Linked DNA regions of Homo sapiens. The protein of the gene in region 7 interacts with the protein of the main gene of each other region in a pairwise test. Each region holds a gene or a part of one and is shown on either strand. Other genes may lie near its edges.

Region 1 (3,500 bases), on a different chromosome or scaffold from region 7:
ATCTTTAAAGAGGCAACATGCTTATAGAGGTGCATTTTTTCTTGTTAATATTTAGCACACTTCCTAGGGGGAGGATTAAATGTCCTCTTCCCATTGACATCCAGCTTGGCTTGGTGACTTGCAGTGCTTTCCCTGTGGAAGAATTAGAACCTTGCTGTTAACTGCAGTAGTGCCCACATGCTTTGCTCTGACCAGTGAAACATGGGTGGAAGTAACATCTGGCACTTCCATGCAGAAGCTTTATGAACCAGCTCATGTTTGCCATTTGTCTTTTTCCTCTTCCATGAGACTGGCAATGTCCCATACAGAGGCTGCTCTGTCAGGCTGGGTCTCCAAGTGAAGACAGTGGGATGGCTTCAATCAAAATTTAATCTAATCATGATTGTAATTTAATTTAATCATGATTGTAATTTAATTATAATCATAATTACATTATAACTAAATTTTTCCTTAAAACAGCCCTGTTGCCATGGTAATGGGAGAAGTGACCCACCCAGAGATGTCTATTTAGTCATTCATGGCCGTGTCGTCCATTTGGCATGCACAGACCTTGGCACACTTCCTTCCCCTAGAAGCATCTCTCTGGGGCTGCTGATGCCTGTCTGGTTTGTGGCTCTCCCAGGAATCAGCCCTGGGCTCACATGGTAGTGGCTCCCCCATGGAAACTGAAGACAGATGCCTCAGTGGCTTGTGTTGAATATCTGCTTCCTAGTCACTGTCCCTTTCCCAAAGCACACTCACTCAACACTTCTCGCCACATTCTGCCCATCTTTGGAGACTCAGTTGAAGCCCTGCACCTTCGTTGGGCCCGCTAGCCCTGATCATTCTGGCCTCCTTTGGTTCTTTTTATAACGAAATTATAATAATGATTGTAACTGAATTACAAAGTTTAATTTATAATTATATGTTATAATTTATAATTCATAAATGAGGCACAGAGATTAACAATAAAATATAATAATAATAATATACTGTAATAAAATTATGGGAAAATGACCTCTCTCTCTCAAAATATCTTATTGTACTACACTGAGAATAACTGAAACCACAGAAAGTAAAATTGCAAATAAGGGGGACTACTGTACCTCTAAGTTCTAGCTGTGGCTCTAGCTACATGTATGAGCTTAACAAGTCCCTTCCCCTCTCTGGGCCTCGGTTTCCTTTTTAACAAAATAATGAAGTTTAGCTTTCTACTCTAACTCTGTAAATTTGTGCTAGGATTTTACTCCTTGCCGCTGTCATTTCACCCTTTTCCCCACCTCTACCAATTACATAGAATGGTTGACACTTTTGAAGTGTTCTTTTTTATTTGTCTTTTTTTAGGTTAAACTTACATACAATGATATACACAGGTCTCAAGTGGACCATTTGGTGAGTTTTGACAAATGCATACAGCCACATGTACCACGTCCCTAACAAGATATTGAGAGCACATTTTCAATACCCCAGAGAATCCTCTTGTACATCATCCAGTTAATCCTTTCCCTCTAGAGGCAAGCACTATTGTGATTTTTTTCCACCATGGACTAGTTTTATGGAATGGTTGGCATTCTGAACTCCTTGGCTCTTTGAGGTGTCTAGTTGTTCAGGTTGCCTATTCTTACACTCCTGAACTCCAGGCATGTGAAGATGAAAGAGAAATTCTTGGCGGGTTCTCAGGACACTCACCCATGGTTCTGCAAGTTCTCTAATTTTCTGAGCCTCTGAGTCACTGACGAAGTCATGGTAGAGAGCAATGTAGGGCTCCAGGTGGATGACCTCCTTCCGGATGGGCTGGAGCAGCAGGTAGGCGTTGGAATTGGTCTCATAGGAACAGTAGAGGCTAGGGATCTGGTAGAGAGTGGGCTGGAAGGAAAGAATAGGATGAGCATAAGAGAAGAAGGGTCTAGGAGCAAAACTCAACTTAGGGGAACTATGGCATAAAAAAATTGGAATGCAAGAGATACAGAATGTGGTCACTCTGATGCTGCCCAAGTGAGCTTTATTGTTTTTAATGCATCAGCTCTATCCCCTCATGTTATCCCAATTCTAGCTTCTCAAACTCTAGCCAGGCCTCTCCCCCTTTCTCTTTCCCTGAGGAATCCTACCTGGGAACCCAGGGTCTGACATAGCCCCTCGTAGGTGTCTCTGGTCTGCAGGTGGGGTATATTGGGCCTCTGGATGACAGCCTCAGCTACCACGTGGTTGGGGCTCTCTGCCAAGAGCCTTTCATATTTCAAGACATTCCTGGCCATCCTCTTATTATCTGGGCCTGGAAGAAATCAGAGCAGGGAATATAAAATAGGGATTAACAAATACTGGCCCCAGGGAGTGCCACCAAGGTTTCCTCCAGCTTCACTGCTGCACAGGATGGGCAAGTGGATCTCCTGAATAACTCCTCATGTCAACACACAGGAGGATGCAAGGCCCTCACTCCCAGAAGACTACCTGGTATTTTTTTAAAAGACTGACTTGATCCTGGTAGATCTGAAGGTGCAAAGGGTTTTGGGAAGCAAAGTGGAACTTAAAACTCTTAGGCCAAGGGATCATGAAGATGGCTGCTCTGGGATACTGTGATGGTATATATGGCGAAGATGAAGCCTCATTCATTCATTCATTCTTTCACCCATCCATTCAGTAAATCTTCAGTGAACATCTACTATGTACCAGATACTGTGCTACAGGTTGACCTCTCAGAGTTTAGAGTCTAATGGAGAAAAAGGACATTAAATTATCACTTACAACAAAATATGATAAGTGCAATGAAAGAGAAGTCCAGAAAGCCAAAGCCTATTGCAAAAGGACCCAACCTATTCTTCCCCAGAGAATTGGAAGCTAATTCATTCTTGGCTCCACTAGATCTTTCAAATCTCCTAACTGGCCTAGACCCAGAGCAAAGAAGTATGGCGCAGAGGGACTCTAGACTTTGGCTCTAGACTGGATTCCCACAGGGCCCTTGGGAAACCCAATAAATCTTGTGTCTTGTTTGTGCCCACCTGTTTGTACCCACTTTGGCTGCAAGATGCCCCATGCATTGGCAGAGCTACCCGTGGCCTGCTGGCCTCTTTGCATGACTCTCAATGCATCTCAGAAGGAGATGCTGAATTGTTCTAATGCTCCCAAAGCATCTTTCTCTGAGGAGCCCAGTGTGCTTCTAACCACAACCATCACCCTGGCAAAGGAGGAAAGGAAGGGGCAGAAATTACCATTCTGTTTTAACAAGAGAAGAAGTGAAGTTTTGGAGAATGGAAATTATAAGCCCAAACCCCAGTGAAAATATTGCAAAGCCGGAAATAAAACTGGGAATCTCAACTTGCCATGTTCTATTATCCACCTATAAAAGCACAAAATTTGAGTGGATAGCAAAGATTTTAATAGATCAAGTGCAAATAAATAAAGAAGGGTTGGATTATAATTTTGTTTGTACCACTAATTACTCATGTGTTTGTAGATACACAGCTACTTCCTTATCCTATTGTTTGCTAATTATCAGAAGGGAATAATGTTACTAAATGGATTCA
Region 2 (3,500 bases), on a different chromosome or scaffold from region 7:
GCCACCTGTCAAGCCCCAGAGCAGCCGGGGTGCAGACTGGAAAGGACACGGGGTCTGCCTCCCACAGCTGACTCTGCACTTCCCATGCGCTCTCTACTCTTCTGAGGGCCAGGGAGGGGAAAGCAGGTAGGGACGGGGAGAGAAAAGCCGGGAGGAAAAGGCAGGGCCCAGGCAGGGAGGGCTGGCCGTCTGCTGGCCTGGCTGCCCCACACTGCTCCCCGGCCCCCACCCAGTCTCTAGCCTCACAATGCCACAGGTGCGAGGTGCCAGGACCACACTGAGCAGCAGCCTCGCCACATCCCCTCTGACCTTCTGACTCTGCCTCAGAAGCGCTGCAGGTGCAGCCACGGACGGGACTCAGGACCCTCAAGGGTCACGACCATTCGCACCACCAAGAACAGCTTTCCCACCCAGTAGGCAGCCGCACTCTCTGGAAATCCCACCTGCTGGTGAGCGGCCGGACCCTGTGCGCCCAGCGGGGCGGACACATGCACGCTCTGTCCCTGGAAATCCCACCTGCTGGTGAGCGGCCAGACGAGTGCCCAGTGGACACGTGCACACTCTGTCCCTGGAAATCCCACCTGCTGGTGTGCGGCAAGACCCTGTGCGCCCAGCGGGGCGGACACATGCATGCTCTGTCCCTGGAAATCCCACCTGCTGGTGAGCGGCCAGACGAGTGCCCAGTGGCGGGGGACACATGCATGCTCTGTCCCTGGAAATCCCACCTGCTGGTGAGCGGCCAGATCAGTGCCCAGCGGAGGGGACACGTGCACGCTCTGTCCCTGGAAATCCCACCTGCTGGTGAGCGGCCAGACCCTGTGCGCCCAGCGGAGGGGACACGTGCACGCTGTATCCCTGGGTCATGCTTGTCACTGGGGATGTTTCCAAATGTAAGTATGTTCAAGGAGCTGGAAACAATCCCTTTTTCACATTCCTTGGGGAGAGCAGGACCCTGTCATGCACCCAATGAAACACCAGGTGGGGAGCCACGCCTCGAAGCCAGCCAGGAACGTGGCTGTGTTGGCAGGTGTGTCCCCACGGCAGCCACGCTCAGCCACGTGCAGCCTCCATAATAGCTGGCACGTCCCTCTCACCTCATCGAAGATCTCGAGATAGAAAGAGTCCACGCCTGGGGGCACCGTGCAGTGGATGACCTTATTCCAGCGGGGATTCTTGGCGCCATTGTGTGCCGTGGGCGTCTCGTACACCGCGTAGCCCAGGCGCAGTCGGCAGTAGGGGTCCATGCGGGTCATGCCGTAATTCTTGGCCAACTTTGCCTGGAATGAAGCCAATGTCAGGAAAAGGAGGTGCCAACCATCAGGAGAGGGTGGGTTCTCTAGGCCGTCTGCCTCCCTGAACCCTTCCACGAGGCCTTTTCCTAACACATAGACTACAGCCACTCAGAGTCGCCTGAACACGGCTGTGACCTGCTTCCCAGGAGGCCAGGAGCAAGAAGAGTGAGCCACAGATGGATCGTGCAGTTCTGAGACAAAGCACGTGGCTCGTCCTTGACAGCAGAAACCTACGACGCTCACAGACACAGCTGAGGCCGCCACTCACCCACCATGAAGGGCGCACTCTCTAATGCCCTCCTCAGAAGTGGCTGAGGAGGGAAAGAGGAGGAGGTCCCGGGACAGAGCTGAGAGCCAGAGCATGACATGGAGTGTGAACCTGCCCCCGGAGCATGATGACCCGGGAGAGGTGCATCCTCGCTCTAGGTGAGAGTGAGGACACCTGCTGCACATAATTCAGACGCCACGTGGCTGCTTTCCTCCCTCGTGAAGGCAGCAGCCCTGCCTGTGCTATCGGAGTACGTGGGGTTTTGGGGACTGGAACTTGTCTTTCTTGTGTCTCCCAATCACAAGGAGCCACATCACATGTAGACCATGAGATTCGACTTCAGGCCAGGTGCTCAGCTGGGCAGGGACATTTGAGGTCCTCGGGGTGGGAGTGAACGTGTGTTCAGAATAAGACAGAAGACCGTGGCAAGTAAGATGATTGTTCAGCAAACAAACTCAACATGGATGGCAGGTTCAAATATAAAACCTAAAACTGTAAAACCTTTACAAGAAAAAACCAGGAGAAAAGCCCTCGTAAGCTGGGTTGGGTTCAGCCCTGCAGCTCCGGCTGCCTGTAAAGCGTCCTGCCTGGAATGCAGACGGCCTCCCTGTACCACTGCCACCCGCTCTCCTGCAGCCAACCCGGCTCACCCCCAGGAGCTGGTGATAGAGACCCCGGGAGCCATCCCGGCCCTCCCACCCACATGGAGCCCGCCAGTTCCTCCTTCCCAGTGGAACAGAGTCCAGACACTGCCCCCCGACCCCCTCTGAGGGAACGGCCAACCTGTCCACACCAACCCCCCTCTGAGAGTACTGCCACCCTGTCCTCACCACCCACCCCCCGAAGGCACGGCCACCCCATCCTCACTGACGCCCCTCTGAGGGCACGGCCACCCTGTCCTCACTGAACCCTCTCTGAGGGCACCGCCGCCCTGTTCTCACCGCACCCCTCTGAGGGCACGGCCGCCCCGTCCTCGCTGACCCCCCGCTGAGGGCACGGCCGCCCCGTCCTCGCTGACCCCCCTCTGAGGGCACGGCCGCCCCGTCCTCACCGACCCACCTCTGAGGGCACGGCCGCCCCGTCCTCACCGACCCACCTCTGAGGGCACGGCCGCCCCGTCCTCACCGACCCACCTCTGAGGGCACGGCCGCCCCGTCCTCACCGACCCCCGAGGGCACGGCTGTCCCGTCCACGCCAACCCTCGCCGCACAGCTGAACTCTCCCCTCCTGTGCCCACATCTCTGGACTGCCAGGTCCTCTGTTTTCTATTCTTGTCCACATACAAGTTCCCTCCTTTCACTTCTAATCAAAGCTGTGGCCGGTCCTTTTAGGTCAAAACTGCCCCATTCTTGGGTCCTTAATTTTAGCGTGTTTCTTGGGTGGCCACAGCGTACTCCGGAATGCTATGGAGTGACAGTTTTCCGGAAGCTCCTGGGCGACAGGCATGCTCAGCCTCTAGCAGCTTCCAATTCCCTTCTGCTGCACACCCACACATCTGCTAGATCAGCTCTTACACTCCAAACTCTGCCCCTGTAAACTCCTTAGCAACTGCCCTATTTTCTGGAGAGTATGTAGCAGGAAAGTCTGAGACCAGCATGATTTTCCAAAGCTTTCAGGTAACTGTGCTGTCTCTGCCTAGCTGCTATGACTTATTTTTATTAATAACTTTAAAGGCTTTGAGCAAAGCCAGCTTTCTGGGTGGCACATGGGACTCCCCTGCCAGCATGCCCGTGCCTGTCACCGATGCCTGCTCACATTGGATCCTGCCTGCTTCTGCCACACTCAGCGTCATCCTCTCATTCCCATCTCCTCCCACTGCCCTCTGCACTGTGGCTAGAAAACTCTAGGATGAGCGTCCTGTGACATCAACTGCTCTGCTGAAGTGACCTCCTCGATGTTTATGGAAGCATCTGCCCATTCACTATGACTGCACACAACCA
Region 3 (4,130 bases), on a different chromosome or scaffold from region 7:
CCAAATCCCATCCACTTGTTACTTTCAGTGGATAAGGGACTGAAGGACTTTGGTCCCAACTCTGCCCTAAACTAGTTGTGAGACCTTCAAAAAGTTATGAATTTTTTGCCATCTTCATTTATTCATCTGTAAAATGAAAGACTGGAATTGAATATTACAAGGGTCTATCTAAGGGCCTGCTAGTTTTAAGAATTTTGCTCAAATCATCGTTTTCAAACTCCTGAAGAAATTACTTCTATAAATTCATTAGAATTGAAAGGAAATTCAGTATTTGGAGAATCACGATTTTGCCCACAGAATTCAAGGATTTATTGGAAAAATATACATACTTGCAAATGTTTTTGAAATATTATGACCTTAACTCATTTTAAAAAGTCATTTATATAGGGCTTGCATCCCATTCATTAACTTTCTGTTGTTAACATTTTCTTCATTCTGAGCTTTTAAAGACTGCACACAACTTCATGAACAAAATACAGGATTAAAATTTTCTGACAGAAAATTTAAATTCCAGTTTTAAAATCTTCAGGGAGTAATTAAATGGTCTTGAGGGGAAAAAAAACTTGGTTGCAGACCTTAGTTTTTAGGTCTGAGAAAATGGAGTAAATGGCTTCCTGCTTGCGTGGCAGGAAAGTTTGCCTTTAAATAAGAGATTATCTGTGAAATACCTTTGAACTCTGTGGAGGGAAGTTGCTGCATACATTCAATGGCAAGGCATTTATTACAAGCTCACGATATTAGGCTGTTTTTTTTTTTTTTTTTTGCCAATACTTCCTCAGTTTTGAAAAATTACGTGGGTTACTTGATTTGTATTTTTTTTCATACCTGTAGAAGTTAGGGTGCATTGTTTTGACAGGAGCAGGGAAGTATTGTAGAAAATAATTTTTATCATAATGGAGTATGGCAGGTTATATGACTGCGAGGATCAGAATTGTGAATCATCTCTTGTGTGTCTTCAAGTAAATAAAGGCAATCTGCCCACGGAGCAGAAAAAAAATCTACAAACTACAAACTCTGTCCAATCATGTAAAGACAAATCAGCCTTCAGGCAAATCAAATGTCTTCATTCAAAGTCTACCTGGATTTGGCACTCTGCCCATCGTTTCAAAACCTCTTAACAATACGTTTCACAAATAGTTAAAAACATGCATACTGAAAAGCATACTTTTGCAATGTTATTTTTAAAAACAAGGAACTCTTTAACCCAGGGAAGATAATCACTTGGGGAAAGGAAGGTTCGTTTCTGAGTTAGCAACAAGTAAATGCAGCACTAGTGGGTGGGATTGAGGTATGCCCTGGTGCATAAATAGAGACTCAGCTGTGCTGGCACACTCAGAAGCTTGGACCGCATCCTAGCCGCCGACTCACACAAGGCAGGTGGGTGAGGAAATCCAGGTAAGGCTCCTGACAGCAGCTTTAGAAGGGTACTTGCTGGAGTGAATTCGGGCCTCTGATTGCTATATAAAGTTGTAGGCAATCAAGCAACAGAGAACTGCAAGTTTCCAAAGGCAATGAAGTAGGATACGGAAGGGAAATCATGGAATTTCCACAAAAGTCTTACTGGGGCCTTTCTTTGGCTAGAGCTGGCACAGTGTGACGTTCCCGAGTTAGTTCAGAGAAATGCTTTCTCTTTTGCGAAACAAAATTTCCAAGAGTAGGTGAATCCTAGGATTTTTCAAGCCTGGGACAGGGTCCAGGGATTTTCGTCTCAGTCACCATCTAAAGCTTTCTTTCCCACGGGCTAAAGCAAAGCCCCATAGGCTTCTCCACTATGACACCTCAGCTCGGATTGCCCGCTTGGAATATATTATTGCAAATCAGAAAACAGTTTTCTTTCTCTTTTTGCTGCAAAGACATTCTTGTTGCCTCTGCAATCTTTAAATTCATGGGATAGGCTATTAGAGGAGAGAGCTGGTTGCTTTCCTGAAGCATCTACAAATAGGGACACTAAAATGTCTTGCAAGTTCATTATTTGCTAAAGACAAGAAGACAGGGATACGGTGATGAGTAAAAAGTGCTGGCTTCACATAATGTGTGTGTGTGTGTGTGTGTGTGTGTGTGTACCTATGTCTGTGTGTGTCTCCAAATTATCAATATTTTCCATGGAATTGTGTTTTGAGGTGGTTTATGCAGGAAATTTGCAGAGCAGAATCTATTCACATTACGAAAACTCAGTGGAGTGAATCTCAGAAAGTCACCCCACAGCAGGATGTTTGTACAGCAGGAGTTATGTTAGCCTTCCTTGAGTCATCCTGCCGTAAAACACAAGCAATATATCAATAGTTCCAACCTGTGATCTTTGGAGATACTGCAAGGTCCTAATAGCTACTTGGAAAACAAGAACTGTAAATGGGCTAAGTAAATAAAAATGCCTTACCATCAATTTACTATTTTTTAGAATATATATAGATGCTGTTATAAATAAAAGATAAAATCAAATGTTTGTTGATAGATTCAAAGAAATTATTTGCCATATGTTTCTGAACCAGCCAGTATTCCAAATGTATAATTATTCTCATGTAAAAGTTCTTGATTTTTTTAACATTACAAAGAAGTCTTTATACAAAGAGGGCTGAGAATTGTTGACTTACAGTGAACACTTAGGTTGTTTTTGCAAAACTCTAGAAGACAAAAGTTATTGGCATTTCCACATCTTTGTAGGTATAGAAAATGAACAAAGTATATCCCTGATTTTTGCTTACATCTTTTCTGAGTAAGACATTTTGTGCTTACATACTATGGATTAGTTAATCATTGGTCAGTTAAATACAAAACATCATTTCGATCTGGTAGCTTAGCAACACTTAAAAAAAAATCAGCTAATGCTTAGCAAAGGTTTCCACTCAAGATATTAGATTATGAAAAACTTCCTGCTTAACAATAGTAATTCCTTGCAGAGTTTATTTGACTTCATTCAAAACCATTCACCAATACTAGAGTTAGGTGCCGGGGTTTCATATTTCCTTTTTAGCACTTTTAGTGTTTGGTTTTATCAGAATCCCAAATCTCCAGCCTTCCATGTTACGGCCCCGTGGACAACCTTAGTGACTTGCTAGAGCAACTCACTTTGCTCCCTCCCTCCCTCCTCACTCACAAAACTTATCTTGCCATGTACTTTCCTTTTCATAGGCTTTAGTTTTTCCTGGGAATCAACTGTGGCATACCAGAAAGAAAAAGTAATTTAACTAAGATATCAGCTAGGCGTGGTGGCTCACTCCTGTAATCCCAGCACTTTCGGAGGCCAAGGCAGGAGGATCACTTGAGGTCAGGAGTTTGAGACCAGCCTGGGCAGCATGACAAAACTCCATCTCTACTAAAAAATACAAAAGCATAGCCAAGTATGCTGGCACGTGCCTGTAGCCCCAGCTCCTTGGGAGGCTGAGGAGGGAGGATCACTTGAACCCAGGAGGTGGAGGTTGCAGTGAGCCACGATTGTGCCACTGTACTCCAGCCTGGGCAACACAGTGAGCCCTTGTCTCCAAAAAAAGTAAATGTAAATTTTCTTAGCTACTAGAGTATGTATATCTATTTTCTCAAAATATATCTCTATTTATCTATTTCTATATAGATATATATATCTATATAGATAACTCTATATCTATAGAGATCTATATCTTTTTGTCTTTATCTATGTGGATCAATAGACAGCTATCCATACTATATACAAACAGTCCCAACTTACAGAAGTTTGACTTAATTTTTTGACTTTATGATGGTGCAAAAGCAATACACATTCAGTAGAAACTGTATTTCAAGTATCCATATAACCATTCTGGTTTTTACTTCCAATAGAGTATTCATAAAAATTACTTGAGATATTTAACACTTTACTATAAAATGGGCTTTGTGTTGGATGGCTTTTCCCAACTTTAGGCTAATGTGAGTGTTCTGAGCACATTTACGGTAGGTTCAGCTGTGGTGTTCAGTGGGTTAGGTGTATTACGGTAGTTCCCCCATTATCTGTGGGGGTTATGGTCCATGACCCTCAGTGGATGCCTGAAACCGCACATTAGTACCAAACACTACATATGCTATGTTTTTTCCTATGCATACATATCTATGATAAAGTTGAAATTATAAATTAAGCACAATAAGAGATTAATAAGAGCTAATAATAAAACAGAACAATT
Region 4 (3,500 bases), on a different chromosome or scaffold from region 7:
TCACTGCAACCTCCACCTCCCAGGTTCAAGTGATTTTCCTGCCTCAGCCTCCTGAGTAGCTGGGATTACATGCATGCGCCACAACGCCCAGCTAATTTTTGTATTTTTAGTAGAGACAGGTTTCACCATGTTGGTCAGGCTGGTCTTGAACTCCTGACCTTGTGATCCGCCCATCTTGGCCTCCCAAAGTGCTTCGGTTACAGGTGTGAGCCACTGCGCCCAGCCTCTTTCTCCCTTTTCGCATGCGTGAAATTTTCTTAATAAAAACTGAGGTGGGGTAGGAGGGAGTGGAACTACCTACTCATATCTTAGCTGTGATATTCTGTACTGCTACATTCCACCTATCTCTTTGGTATTTACTAAATAACTGGTAGCCTTGTTGGTTGAATTTCTTGATTTATTCCCAGGACCAATTTTCATGTAGCTTGTATATATACATTTCTCTTTTTTTATTTTTATGCATCCATTTTCACTTAATATACATTTCTTAAGACATAGCAAAATAGTTAAATAAGAAATAACAAATTAAGGTGGATTATGTAGGCTACCAAGGAGGTACATTACTTTCTTCCATTAATCCATTATTTGACATCTTGGTAACCTAGGTGGTTTCTCTATTTTGTAGTAATTGTAACATGATTTTTTTGTGCACTCAATAGGTTTTACTTAACACTGCAGGCTCACACAGAACTATTAGCAATACTCAGTCTCTTGTCTCATCCTTCAATCCATAATATGGGAGTACCAGATAAATACTCTCCTGGAGGGAAGGGGACTATTTCTTAAATGCTGGCGAATATGGTAGTCTATACTAAGGCCCTATATGATCAGCTAGTCAATAAAAGTCTATATAATTGTAAAGGCAAGATAAAAACAGACCTTTTAAAACAATATACTATTTAAAAGCAGCAAAAAGAATCCTGCAGATACACCTGTATACTTTTAAGGTATTTAATGGGCAGCAAATGTTGCCTATCTTCATCTCAAAGAAAATGAGAAAAAGATCTGTTTTCCACAACTATCCTGACATACTTGGTTCTTGAAAGCTCTGAATTCCTTTGTCTTGTTCTTTCATAGCTGTAAAGTCCAGAAATGAAGAATGAAGAATTCAGAAATGAAGAATTTGGTATCTAACGTTTTCAACTTACTGCCAGTACATACCTGCCCAAAAATCAACATAAAAAGAACATTTGGAACAGGAAAAATATTTTACAGAAAACAAACATTTTAAGAATACCACTTTCTTGTTCCAGGGTGAAAAATAAACAATGATAATCCTCAACATAACTGGTAATTATGTTTTCAAGTTACCTCAATTTTTGGCTCTAAAAAGGACTAATACCAGAAAACCTATAGGGCTGAATACTTAATCTGTGTATAAAACTATAGTTAAACATGTAATAAGCTTTTATTTATCCAGTCTTTTGCACAGCCCATTTTGTCCCTCACAACATCTGTTATAGTACCTCATATGTAAGAATCATAAGGGTTTTAAGTAGTCTTAATAACCTAAAATTTCCAAACTCAAAATACTTTCCTCTTGTCTGGTAGCCAATCCTGTATCAAGAAACACCCAAATATTTAGTTCTGTGCTCTTTACTAAAACAAGTAAGCAACAAGTTCTCTTCTTTAAAGGGGTTCAATATTCAGGAGTCCCTTTCCCAAGAAAAATATCTATACTATGATGGAAAACTTTTCTTCAATGACAGCTGTGTGTTGCCTAAATTCCATTTCTATGCTTTCAATTTCTTTTAACTCTGCTAACACCTAGCAATAGGTTAGTGTCTCTTTTCTGCTCTCCTCCCCTTGGTTACATATAAAAATACGTTTTTCAGTTGGGCGTGGTGGCTCACGCCTGTAATCCCAGCACTTTGGGAGGCCAAGGCGGGTCGATCAAGAGGTCAGGAGTTTGAGACCAGCCTGATCAATATGGTGAAACCCCATCTCTAGAAAAATACAAAAATTACCCAGGTGTGGTGGCGCGTGCCTGTAATCCCAGCTACTGAGGAAGCTGAAGGAGGAGAATCGCTTGAACCCAGGAGGCGGAGGGTGCAGTGAGCCGAGATTGCGCCATTACGCTCCAGCCTGGGCAATAGAGCGAGACTCCATCTCAAAAAAAAAAAAAAGACAAGTTTTTGTGAATATGGCTTAATATCACAAACAAGAATACCAAAGAATCTATCAAAATGTTACCATATTGATATTATGGCAAAGGCATTAACCAGCTCTAGGATTTGTAATCAACCAGCTCTAAAGTTTTTATTTTACAGATAAGGTCAAAACAGTGGTTTAGAGAGACGAAGTAACTTCCTCAAGGTTACAGTTAGTAAATATCCCAGTTAGGATTCAAAGCAAGCTTTTTTTGCTTTAGAATTCTTCCCCAGGTCACTGCCTCTTCCATCAACTTCAACTATTTATAAATTCTCCCAAGTTCCCCAAGGGAGTTAGATTTGAATGATGTAAAGAGCAGAAACATAGGACTGACTGAATGATTCTCATTTTTTTGACTCTTAAAATTATTGAAGACGCCAAAGATCTTTTGTTTATGTGAATTTTATCTTTCCACATTTACCACAAATTTTTAAAATGTAGTATTTATCAATGTATTTTAAGACAAGCCCATTATAAGTTAACATAAATAACATTTCAACAAAAAATACTTTCCCTCCAAAAAGTGAGAAAAGTAACGTTGTTTTGCATTTTGCAAATCTCTTTTATGTCTAACTTGATAAAAGATGGTTGGATTCTCACAGTTACTTCTGCATTCAGTCTGTTGCTATATGTAGCTTTGGTTAAGTATATAATGAAAATCTAGTCGGAAAAGGGAGAAGTATTTTAATAACCTTTTCAGATAACTGTGTTTGGTAAATACTAAAACTCAACAAACGGTAGTTTCTTTCTTTTTTTTTTTTTTTTTTTTTTTTAATAAATAGAGACAGGGTCTCACTATGCTGACCAGGCTCAACTCCAACTCCTGGGCTCACACAATCCTTCCACCTTGGCCTCCCAAAGTGCTGGGATTACAGGAGTGAGCCACCACGCTAGGCCAAATAGTAGTTTCTTAAAGGACAGTTAACATTTTGGAATCTGAAACCACATCAATCCACTTTTTTACTGTTAAAATCCATTGCTATGTCTGGAATTTTCAAAGGATCTTTTGCCTTTGCTTGATTTTGCAACATCATGCATTGGTCATTTGCAAAGCCTAGATTTACTGAGTTATGCCCATCTTCCAAATAACATATTTCATTAAACAACATTTTAAAATATTGCAGTCCTTAACCACTGATATCATAAGGAAAGTCTTTTAAGTACTAGGAAGCTGTCAAACTCCAGCTGTCAACTTTTTAAAAATTCTAATTTTCACCCAAATTTTATCACTGGTAATAAATACTGTCAGTTGTTTTCCTAAAAGTGACAAGCTCACTTCATTTTCAAGAAATATCTGCCAAATACTAAGTGTGAAAAACCATAGTCTGCTAGTCGTTCTTTCAAGTAAA
Region 5 (3,500 bases), on a different chromosome or scaffold from region 7:
CGAGCATGTGGCACGTGCCTATAGTCCCAGCTTCTTGGGAGGCTGAGGTGGGAGGATCACTTGAGCCTGGGAGGTGGAGATTGCAGTAAGCCAAGATCATGCCACTGCACTCCAGCCTGGGCCAGGGAGCGAGACTGTCAAAAAAAAAAAAAAAAAAAAAAAAAGAATGGATTTGGTGGTGGAGGGTTGGAGAGGTAACACCAGGAGATACCCTCAGATAAAGCCCAGGGCCCATGCATCCTCAAAGGTCTCCAACCCCATTAACCTAATGGGTCTGCCAAAAGGCACAGCTTCCTTTCAATCCGGGTGGACAATTCCCATGACAAGTCTCAAGATAGTCTCAAGACAAGAATCACCAGCCTCCCAGAGCTCTGACCGTCTCACGATTGAGGGGCTGGCAGGGGTCCTGGGTCCAGGTATAGGCTGGAGCAAAGGCTATCGATCATATGCTAACAGGCCCTGCAGGACAGCAGAGTTTTGTTTTGTTTTTTTCTTTTTCAGAGACAGGGTCTTTCTCTCTCCCAGGCTAGAGTGCAGTAGTGCAGTCATAGCTCACAATAGCCTCAAACTCCTGGCTTCAGGTGATCCTCCCGCCTCAGCTTCCCAAGCAGCTGGACTACAGGTGTTGACCGGCTAATTTTTTTGTACAGAAGGGGGTCTTGCTATGTTGCCCAGACTGGTCTCAAACTCCTGGCCTCAAGTGATCCTCCTGCCTTAGCCTCCCAAAGCACTGGGATTACAGGCATGAGCCACGAAGTATGGCCATAGAGCACTAAGGTGTCACTGGCCCCAGAGCAGAGTTTCCAGGCTGCAGAAGTGAGCCTCAGCTACCTGACTTCACCTTACCTCACCCTCTAGATCCTCCCTCCAACCTGTCCCCCAAGCTAGAGAAGTGAGGCTTAATGGTAAGAGCACACCCAGCTGGAAGTCATAAGGCCTGTGATCAAGTGCTGACCCCTTTATTGTGTGACATGGGACAAGCATCTGTGCCTCTGTGGCCTTTGCTGTTCTTGTCTTGATCAGAGCCTACATGAACTGGAGCCTGCATCTCCCTGCCTGTCCACACTGGGGCTGCAACAGTGGGCAATCCAGGAAGTTGTCAAGCACCAGGGCCTTTTTGGAGTGGAAGTAGCGCTTCTGCTTTGTGGGCCTCGGATCTCCCCACTTCTGACTCAGCCTTCCTCCATCAGTTTCACATGGGAAGGCACAGACCCTGGCACTATCCTGCAGCCCAATCCATAACTCTGAACTCAACTCTGGATTCTAATTACTTGTGCATGTTACCTGTCCAGAGAGAGCTATGTGTCCAGACACCACCAGAGGGTCTCAGGAAGGAGCCAGGCAAGGGACTCCAGGATGCAATGGGGAGGGGGGCAGAAGAGGTAGACATTCAGACCACCACTCCTCCCTTTAAGACAACTGCTGTCTCCACCCTGTCTCCTGCTGTCTTCTGTAAAGCCACCAGGGTGGGAGGGAGGGGGGCAGCATCTGAGTCATCCACCCAGCTGCCTTGCCTGGGGTGGGGCCCAGCTGCAAGCCTGGACTCCAGACAGGCTTCCCTGGTGCTTACAACCTTCCCATTCTGCCTGCACTTGGGTATCCAAATCCCTTGGGCTACAGACTAGAAAGAGACAGAGAAGGGGCAGGGGGTACCAGGTGCGGTAGCTCATGCCTATACATCCCAGCACTTTGGGAGGCCAAGGCCAAGGCAGGTGGATTACTTGAGCCTAGGAGTTCGAGACCAGCTTGGGCAACACGGTGAAACCCCATCTCTACAAAATATATAAAAATTAGTGGCCGGGTACGGTGGCTCACACCTGTAATCCCAGCACTTTGGGAGGCCAAGGTGGACGGATCACGAGGTCAAGAGATCAAGACCATCCTGGCCAACATGGTGAAACCCCAACTCTACTAAAAATACAAAAATTAACTGGGCGTGATGGCATGTGCCTGTAGTCCCAGCTACTCGGGAGGCTGAGGCAGGAGAATCGCTTGAACCTGGGAGGTGGAGGTTGCAATGAGCCGAGATCGCACCACTGCACTCCAGCCTGGCAACAGAACAAGACTCCGTCTCAAAAAAAAAAAAAGAAAAAAAAAATTAGCTGGGCATGGTGGCACACACTTGTAATCCCAGCTACTCAGGAGGCTGAGGTGGGAGAATCACCAGAGCCTGTGAGGCTGACGTTGCAGTGAGCTGTGATCATGCCACTGCACCCCAGCCTGGGCAACAGAACAAGACCCTGTCTCAAAAAAAGAAGAGAGAGAGAGTATTGGCGAAAGGGGTTTCTTCTTGGAGCCTATAATCCAGCCCAACAGAAGGTCCCCCAAACTCCTGAGTGTGGTTGAGGTACCCAGGCTGGGTCAAAAATTGCTACAGGGTCTTAAAAACAACTTTCCATCCCAACTCCAAATCTGGCCCTGAACTCTGAGCTCTAATTAAACATTAAACCAGACAACACCTTCTCTCTAGGCTTTGGTGGGAGGGGTTGGGAAAATGCCTTTTTTCCTCTCCCAAATTCTTTACTCTACCCACTTCTCTACCTCACTCTGAGCACAGCAGACCCAGCAGGGAGTAACCAATCCTGGCTCCTCCTACTGTGGGCATAGAAGAGGACAGACACCCCAGTCTGAGTCCCCTTTGTCTTCACCCCACTTTCTATCAGCTTGGGATCCAGGTGTGCAAATCCACCTCTCTTTTCCGGAAGCCCAGCCTTTCCAGCCAGGATCAGTGGGGGAGAACAGAGGGAGGTGGCTAAATATAACAAGTACACACACCACCTCCGCCCTGCCCCACATGCGCACATACCCGCCTGGTGTCCCAGGCCTGGACAGCTGCACTAGGAGGCAGAGGAGACAAACTGGCGTGGCTGGGTGAGCAAGAGAATATCGAATCCACTCAATCTGTTTCTCGATCAAAGTTTTGACCAGAAAACTGCTAAAACTGCTAAAAATGTCCTTCACAGGGCTTTGGTAGATGAGTGGACTAGTTTAGAATGCAACGAATTCTCTGGGTCTCCCCTTCCTTGCTTCCTATCTGTCTTGCTAACTAAATTGTTCATATCACTAGTAGAAAAAAGACAGGCCTGGCGTCAGGCCTGGTGGCTTATGCCTGTAATCCCAGTGCTTCCGGAGGCCGAGGCAGGAGGATTGCTTGAGGCCAAAACTTCGGAACCAGCTGAGCAACATAGCAAGTTTCCATCTTTACAAACAAAAAGCAAAAAAAAAAAAAAAAAAAAAAAAATTAGCCAAGCGTGGTGGTGCCTGCCCTTAGTCTCAGCTATTCCGGAAGGTGAGACGGTAGGATCGCTTGAGCCCAGGAGGAGTTCCAGGCTGCAGCAAGTTATGATTGTACCATTGCACTCTAGCCTGAGCAACAGGGCAAGGCCCTGTCTCTGAAAAATATAATAAAAATAAAGAAAAGGACAGGTGTGGTCTCTTTCAGCAGAATGAACCCAGGAGTTCAAGACTGTGGGCAACATGGCAAAACCCCATCTCTACAA
Region 6 (3,216 bases), on a different chromosome or scaffold from region 7:
AGGACCACAGGTGCTAGTACTCCTGGCTAATGTTAAAATTGAGGGTCTTGCTGTGTTGTCCAGGCTGGTCTCAAACTCCTGGGATCAAGCAAGCCTCCTGCCTCAGTTTCCCAGTGTTGGGATTACAGGTGTGAGCCACCATGCCTGGCGTAAGATATATTTAAGTCAGCAGAAAACCCAAGTGACATTTTAATATAATTCAGATAATCCTGAGTCAAGCTTTGTAGGCTGAGGTAGATGAGGGGCCTCCCTTGAGGTCCCTCTGCCTCTGGTGTCATTGTGGGTCACCAGCCACTGTGGTTGTGCGTTTGCAGACTTACTCTCTGGCTTTCCCCGGTATCTGCTTCCTCCTTTAATCTCTTTGTGCCTAAGCTCAATGGCCAATGCTTGCTTAGCTCTGCCGAAGCCTGACAATGGGAATGAAATCTGCTGGCGTCTTGTCTGCAGTGTGGGATACATGTAGTTGGTCTTGCTAAAAAAGAATTTGTCAAGCAATGGTGTGACAGCTGGAATAAGCACTTTATTTTTTAAAAATGACAATAGAAAAGTACCTTTAAACAGTTATAAAAGCATAATAGACTGCAGAAGTGGCTATTTTCCTTAGGAGTACAGTCATCTCACCAAGAGCCGATTGGCACTGAGGGCATAAGCAGGTCCTTGAACACCAAAGTGGATCCGTCACAAGTCCTTGAGCTAACTGCCTTTTCCCCTTATTTACGGTAAGAAAGAGCCCCTCACTCCTGGCCTTGGTTTTTTGTGTTGACCTTTAAAAGCTTCTTGACATCTTTATATTTCTAATGGAAAATAACAAAACAAAAACCCAAACCAACCAGGTAATCATGACATTGAAATTTTCAACATAAGCCGAGCGGATCAATAGGAAAGACTGTGTTTGGCAGCTGAATTTAGGTCAGTGTGGTTTTACAAAAATGGCTTCTGTACAAGGGGAGAGGTTGAGCTGTCATGAACTCTGGAGATGTGTCAACTGACAACACCAGACTGACTTTGGCTTTGACGAAGTCTGAATAGAATTGGTTCCAAATGCCCACTGCCTCCGTCTCCTGTGGGGTGTGGCAGGACGTCTCACAGTGAGCACACGCCATTTGGGAGCTCATGGTATGTGGTCGGTTTGGCCCAGTGCTGCCAAGAGTTGGCAACACCAGCTCAGTTCAGCCGGTGTTTTGCAAACAAACATCACTTTGGAGATACAGACATGAGCTGCCCACTGCAGCCAGGTGGGCTGGGCACAGCCAACCCCTTCAAGGGCCAGGGCTGGCCTCCCAAGCCAAGGTTTTCCCTTACCAGTGAGGCAGGCTCTGCACTTACACTGCGGGAGCAGGGATGCGGGGCTGGCTTGTGGAAGGTAGGTTAGGCATCGAGTGGCTACACATACAGGAGAGTGGAAACATAAAACTGTACAAAGTCACACTTGGCACACAGTTGATATAGTCACAGCTGGAGCTACTAGGGCTTTCTAAGGGCACACTCAGCAGTTCTTACCAATGATGTTTTCTTGCCCAGTTGTGAATAAGCCATAGGTAGAAGCTCCTGGAGGCTTCTGGTTGATTGTCTTGCAGGGCTGTCCTACTAGAACTGGGATCCTAGACCTAACACTGCAAATAACAGTTCTGTTTCTAACATCTAACACCATGCTACTAATTTACCCTGGACTCCGGCCAGGCACAGATTTCTATATATTCACAATACAATTCAGGATATTTTGATAATATTTGGAAACATGCCTCAAACATGCAACTTACTTCAGAGGAAAAAAATAGATATTTTTAATTACAAGCATTCAAAAGTCAAGAACAAAAACTGTGATCCAAACCAGTGTAAGATCGTCCATCCCAGCATACTTAAAATGTTTGGTATAAAAATACTCACTTTTCTTGGTTTTATTGTTGACTTCTCTTACGTTTCGTTTGAAAATATCTCCAAACTGTACAGAAATTTCAGACCATGCATTCACAAATAATACGCTATTTCTTACAATTATACAGTGTAAAAGAGTAAAACATTTTTATTAATTATATTTTTTTCTTCGAGAAAAACAGATGTGTGATAGAGGCTGTGACAAAGTCTTGAAGGGATCAAAACTGGGCAAGGGTTTTTCAAGCCTGAAACAGAAAGAAAACATGTTAGGAGAGCAGGTGTCAACCCCTCCCTAGTTGCGATGGCTTTGTCCTGGAGATGCTGTGGATGGGAGAACGGATGGGTTAGATGACAGTGTGCGGATGTGTGTATAGAACATATTTGCTGACCACATGTGTCAGTGGTCTCACCTTGATTAGAAACATGGGGCAAGTCCTTGGCTCCCGCTCACAAACCCCTACCCTGGCCCAGAGGTTTTCTTGAAACACATCTCAGCTATATTGTATTATTCAGTCACTCCTTTTCCTGCCATCTTACCAGCATGTCACACACGTTTGAGAAGTTGTAGAAAAGGTGTATGCAGAAGGCAATCAATCAGCTCAGCATACACTAGAATTTTGTACAGGGAGATGCTTATTTGTGTGCCGAAAGAGGCCATAAACAGATAATTATTGATAACCTATTTAAATGTCCCAAGTTAGATTTTGTCCCAAGTTAGATTTGGGAAAATGTGTTTTAAAAAGTCCTGAAATGAGAATATTTAGGTGACCACTGAAACATAGCGTACGGGATGAGCTTGTAAATGTTCACACCAAATCTGTCCAATTTGTATCTGACCTGTGACTTTTCACTGCCCAGTTTTTGGACGACAGTATGAGTGGGTAGCGGGTAACGGCCGGCGGAGCAGGGGCAAGCCAGGCAGAGCTTTCCACAGTGGGCCCTGGACACCCTGGACCTTCTCTGTGACGGGCGACTAATACTTGCCTGTCTCTTTAGGTTGTGGCAAATAAATAATGACATTAGTTCTAGCACATCCGCTTAAGTATGCTTACTGTAGACAGCCCTCAAGGCAGCCAAATCCAGACTCATCCCTGTGCACCCCTGGCCTGTCCCTGCCCTTTACACCGACCTCATTTCCTGTCCTCTTGGCTCATCTGCTCCTTCCACTCCACCATCACCATCTTAGGGCCACCTGTGCAGAAGTGTGCTTCTACCTCGAATCTTCATCTACTTTGCTTTGGGCAGCATGACAACAACATTCCTAAATCACTCTCCACCCCTGCTCATCTTTCCAGTGGCTTCCAAATCCCTAACACATCCTTCAAGGCCTTCAAAAGCCTG
Region 7 (4,122 bases):
CTACGACTGAAACTCTGATTTTACAGGTGACAACCCGAAGCTCAGAGAGGTAAAGCAACTTGCCCAAGGTCACACAGCTGGCAGATAACGGATCCAGAAGCCCTGTGCTCTTCTGAGCCATAAAGCTCCACTCTCTGGACCCCTAAGGTGTCACTTCCACTACCGCGAGGAATGATGACTTTTCTTCCTAACCCGAGGCAACCATAAGCTAACTTAAGGAAAGCCCAGGGGATTCTTCCAAACGGAGGGCCTCCCTGACGAGCTCAAAGAGGACACAGGTTTTGAGTCAGCCCCACTTTTTACCAGCACAGCCACTGCCAGCACCACCTTTACCCTTCACAGGCCCCAGGTCCTTTGCTTCTGAACATAAAAGATCTTAGCTAAAAATAAATCTGCCAGTAGCTCCAGCCGGGGCCTCTGTGGTCACTTAAAAATTGAAAGAATCCAGGCCCTCTCATCTTTTTTTTCTCTCTTTTGTAACAAAGATAAAATGATAAATGGAGGGGAGATGAACTAGGACAGGGGGCAGGGAAGGGATGGCAGGCTGGGGCATGTCCTAAACTTGGGCTGTCAAGGCCAGGCCTCTCTGCACAACGGAGTTTAAAAATAAAAATAAACAATCATTATTCTAATAAAGGAAAACCCAAGTTAGGAGACATGATGTTTCAACTCAACAAAGCTATTTCACCACACTCCCCCACTTCTTTTCAAGTTCAACTGAAAAGATCCGCCTTTGGGGTGCCAATTGCCCGGACTGCCTGACCAGGATTTCCAAGCTCTTCAGTAGCCGCACCCCAGATGTTCCAGTGCCAGCAGGTGCACCCCAGCTCTGGCCCACACAGGAGCGATGAGCTCTCCCAGCCCCCTGACCATTCCCTGGCAGCAAGGAATGGAGCTGGGGGCTCCAGGACAAGGTTAGATCGGGGTCTTCCCCTCCCTTGCTGAGTGGACAGCTTCCGGGCTCCGCGTGACACCTGGTCCCCGCAGCTGGCGCCAGGGAGGCTCCAGGAGCTCACAGCCAAGTGGCCTCCTGGGCGGTGGGGAGATGGGAGCGGCGCCCCACTAGCCCCGCCCTCGCTTCCATAGCTGGACAATTGGTTGATTGGAGCTGACAAGCCCCCCCCTGGCCTGCACAACAACACAGGGCTAAGATCTGCTACCCCTGTGTTTCCTTCTCTGGGGTGAAGGTTCTCTAAGGCTCCCAGGAACCAGGGGCACAGTAGGAGTTTCCCATTCGCAGGTTTCCCGGCTGGCCCCCTCCCCTGGGGTCGAGGTGGCACCGCGGGGCATCGATTCCAGTGCCAGTAAACACAGCGGCGCTTTCTCCACATAAGTGAGCCTTCTCTTCCCCTCCTCCCACAAGGGGTTCGGGGCACCTAAACACCCTCCCGGGTCACTAAGATGCCTCCTCCTGCACACCCTGCGGGCGGAGGCAGCGGTCCGGGGGCGCGCTGAGTGCACGCTTGCAGCCGGCCAGGGAGACTAATCAAAGTGCGCAGGCAGGCTCCCGCTGCTCCTGGCACCTAGGACTCGCTCCCAGGAGGACGGACGAGGTAGCCTGGATGCTTCGGAGGGGCGCTCTGGGGCAAGGAAGGACGTGCTTCTGGAAGCGACGCACAAGGGGGCTCAGGGTCTCGGCCTCCTGGGGGTAGGGGGGGACACGCCTCGAGATCTTTCCACACACCCTGAAAAAGTTCCCGTCCAGAGCGCCCAGACTGGCGCTAGGAGGAGGCCAGTTCTCGGGGACCTAGCGCTTCCCTCCATGAGACCTTCTGGACCTGACCCACCAGGTCAGGGTGGGTGCAGAGGCAATGACTCCGCCTGGACTTACCTAGAACTCCCGGCGAGCCCGGCTGCGGTCACGTTCTCGGCCCCAGACCCCCGAATTCCCGTGCGCTCTCTGCACCCCCAGCCACACTCACCATAAGCTGGAGGCGGCGGAAGGGGGTGCTGGTTTCTCACGCACTGTCCGCAACTTCGCGGGCAGGTCAGCCCCGCCCTGGCGCGCCTGCCTGGGCGCGGCGAGGGTCCGGACAGGCGGGGACCCTGGCGGCCACTGGGTGGGGGTCTGGAGCGCAAGGACTCTCAATCCCGGGCGCGCGGTCCGCTCCTGCTCTCTCTGCCTGGGCAAGAAGCTCGGAGTTCTCCTGCTCCGGACGCCGGGGCGGGGCCCACGGCTGGCTGTCCCCTCCAGATGTGGGGTGCTCGGCTCGGCTCACTCCTTCCTTCTTCAGCCCCGGAGGCGCGCGCGTGGGTCCAGCCAGTGCCGCCGCCTCTGCTGTTCCCGGGGCTGGCAGAGCGCCCCCGCCCCACCGCGGGTGCTGCTGGGGGGCTGGGGCGGAGGGGGAGGGATTCCCCTCCGCGAGTTCGGGTTTCCCCACCCGACGCGGCCCCTGGGCTCCGTCCGCCGTCCGCCACCCTCCGCGCTGCTTGGAGAACCACTTCAGGGCAGCGCAGCCAGTCCCACCGACTCTGGCTGGAGGAGGCGGCGGCAGCGCGGCTCGCACGGGGACTGGAAAGGAGGTGACCTTCAAACCCCGCGCTCGGGAGACCAGGAAGGGGGCTGGGGTGATCGAGGGAGCGGTGTGTGCACCCAGACGGCCAGCAAGAGCGCTTGTAGGAGGGCGGGAGAGAATAAAGAGGAAATCTTCCAGTAAAAATATAGATTAGAAAATAAACAAAGGAGAGCCGGAGAGAGCGCGAGAAAATGTGTGCATGTGTGTGTGTGCGTGTGTGTCTGTGTGTGTGTGAGCGCGCGACAAGCAGCGAGCAGCCCCGGCTGCGGAGCCAAAAATAATCTGGTGCGCGAGGGAGCGCCCCCTCCCCCTTCCCCTCGCCAGCGCCGCCGCCGCCGCGGTCACGCGTGCAGCCCTGGATTCCAGCGGGCGGCGGCGGCGGACACGCGACCCGGTACCCTGGTCTCCTGGCCTAAAGGGGACAGAGGGTGAAAGTTGGATGCTGGGGCAATGAGCCCAGGACTTTCACCTGCGCCCGTCCTCGTCCTGGTAGTCCCCAGGTGGGCTCACTCATTGAGCACCAGCGCCCTCCTCCCAACCCCAATCAAAGTAGACAAATCCCCCACTAGAGACGCCAAGTGGAGGCAGCTTCTTGCCCCAGTCCATTTCTTCTCTGAGGAAGTTTTCTGGCAAGTCTTCAAATCTTCCGGCCAGGCAGAGATCGAGCCCTATCCAAGATTCAAAAAGTTCTCCAGGCTGGATGGGATGCAGGGCTGGGGTGGGTGCGGCTGGCCTGGGACGCCCCCACCCCGCACAGCTGGGCCTCTCCTGTCCTGCCCCCTTCCTGGCCACCTACTCCCGCAATGGACGCTGAAGGGGTCTAGGGATTGTCCTCCTAGCAGATGTCTTACAGCCAGAAGCCCCATGACGCCTTAATACACACTAGCACTTAATAAGCATTTACTTTCCACCAGATGCTGTTTTAAGCACTTTACATGGAGTCTTTTCAACAACTGGAAGTAGATACTGGAGGTTTATCCATTTCACAGATGCTTAGAGAGATTAAAGCAATATTTCTCCCTTCCTGGGTCCCACTCTGGACTGGAGTGAGAAACTCTGCTCTTCCCCTACCTTTTCCTTTCCCTCCCTCCCTTCCTTCCTCCCTCCCTTTCTTCCTTCCTCCTTTCCTCCCTTCCTTCCTTTCTCCCTTCCTCTTTTTTCCACAAATATTCCAGGGGGTTTTGTTGTACAATAAAGTCAGTCTGAGGTTCAGTGAGTTGTAATTTGTTCAAGGTCACATAGCTGGCAAGGAACCAGGACTCCCCAGGCAGTCTACCTCATTTTATGTGGCACCACCCTGCCTTCTGAAGGGCAGGTGGCATTGGACAAGGCCAGATTCCAGCCTTGAGCACTTGATCTGAGGCGCCTGTTCATTTTCCCATCCTGTGATGTGACTGTGTTTGCACTTATACCATGGATCCTCTTATAAGAAATGCTGTAAGCTTTCCAAAACAGGGGGCCATGTGATGTGCATTCCTTTGTACTAGATGTACGTGTATTTCCTAGCGCCCATCAAGGAGCAGATTCCTTAAGGGTTCCTCTTGCAATCCTATCGGGCTGCGGTTTCTTTCAACCTCAGAATAAAAGAAAGGGAACTTCTGCCTAT

The links.
Region 1: the proteins of RBFOX1 (region 7) and P4HA3 interact in binary tests that used the Homo sapiens proteins (3 or more experiments, as listed by UniProt).
Region 2: the proteins of RBFOX1 (region 7) and TOLLIP interact in binary tests that used the Homo sapiens proteins (3 or more experiments, as listed by UniProt).
Region 3: the proteins of RBFOX1 (region 7) and AGR2 interact in binary tests that used the Homo sapiens proteins (3 or more experiments, as listed by UniProt).
Region 4: the proteins of RBFOX1 (region 7) and POGZ interact in binary tests that used the Homo sapiens proteins (3 or more experiments, as listed by UniProt).
Region 5: the proteins of RBFOX1 (region 7) and LMNA interact in binary tests that used the Homo sapiens proteins (3 or more experiments, as listed by UniProt).
Region 6: the proteins of RBFOX1 (region 7) and RBPMS interact in binary tests that used the Homo sapiens proteins (3 or more experiments, as listed by UniProt).

Annotation. Positions count from the first base shown.
Region 1 is NC_000011.10:74,284,141-74,287,640, forward strand, and holds part of P4HA3 (prolyl 4-hydroxylase subunit alpha-3 isoform 1 precursor), read right to left. Parts: intron 2,252-3,500; coding exon 2,088-2,251; intron 1,846-2,087; coding exon 1,669-1,845; intron 1-1,668. UniProt on the Homo sapiens protein: Catalyzes the post-translational formation of 4-hydroxyproline in -Xaa-Pro-Gly- sequences in collagens and other proteins.
Region 2 is NC_000011.10:1,289,133-1,292,632, forward strand, and holds part of TOLLIP (toll-interacting protein), read right to left. Parts: intron 1,278-3,500; coding exon 1,095-1,277; intron 188-1,094; exon of another isoform or gene 1-187. UniProt on the Homo sapiens protein: Component of the signaling pathway of IL-1 and Toll-like receptors. Inhibits cell activation by microbial products. Recruits IRAK1 to the IL-1 receptor complex. Inhibits IRAK1 phosphorylation and kinase activity.
Region 3 is NC_000007.14:16,802,200-16,806,329, reverse strand, and holds the start of AGR2 (anterior gradient protein 2 homolog precursor), read left to right. Parts: upstream 1-1,330; 5' UTR 1,331-1,395; intron 1,396-4,130. UniProt on the Homo sapiens protein: Required for MUC2 post-transcriptional synthesis and secretion. May play a role in the production of mucus by intestinal cells. Proto-oncogene that may play a role in cell migration, cell differentiation and cell growth. Promotes cell adhesion.
Region 4 is NC_000001.11:151,452,995-151,456,494, forward strand, and holds part of POGZ (pogo transposable element with ZNF domain), read right to left. Parts: intron 1,909-3,500; exon of another isoform or gene 1,033-1,908; intron 1-1,032. UniProt on the Homo sapiens protein: Plays a role in mitotic cell cycle progression and is involved in kinetochore assembly and mitotic sister chromatid cohesion.
Region 5 is NC_000001.11:156,117,711-156,121,210, reverse strand, and holds part of LMNA (lamin), read right to left. Parts: intron 1-3,500.
Region 6 is NC_000008.11:30,569,541-30,572,756, reverse strand, and holds the end of RBPMS (RNA-binding protein with multiple splicing), read right to left. Parts: intron 2,121-3,216; coding exon of another isoform or gene 2,027-2,120; 3' UTR 501-2,026; downstream 1-500.
Region 7 is NC_000016.10:6,017,702-6,021,823, reverse strand, and holds the start of RBFOX1 (RNA binding protein fox-1 homolog 1), read right to left. Parts: upstream 2,801-4,122; 5' UTR 1,926-2,800; coding exon of another isoform or gene 1,923-1,925; 5' UTR 1,832-1,922; intron 1-1,831. UniProt on the Homo sapiens protein: RNA-binding protein that regulates alternative splicing events by binding to 5'-UGCAUGU-3' elements. Regulates alternative splicing of tissue-specific exons and of differentially spliced exons during erythropoiesis.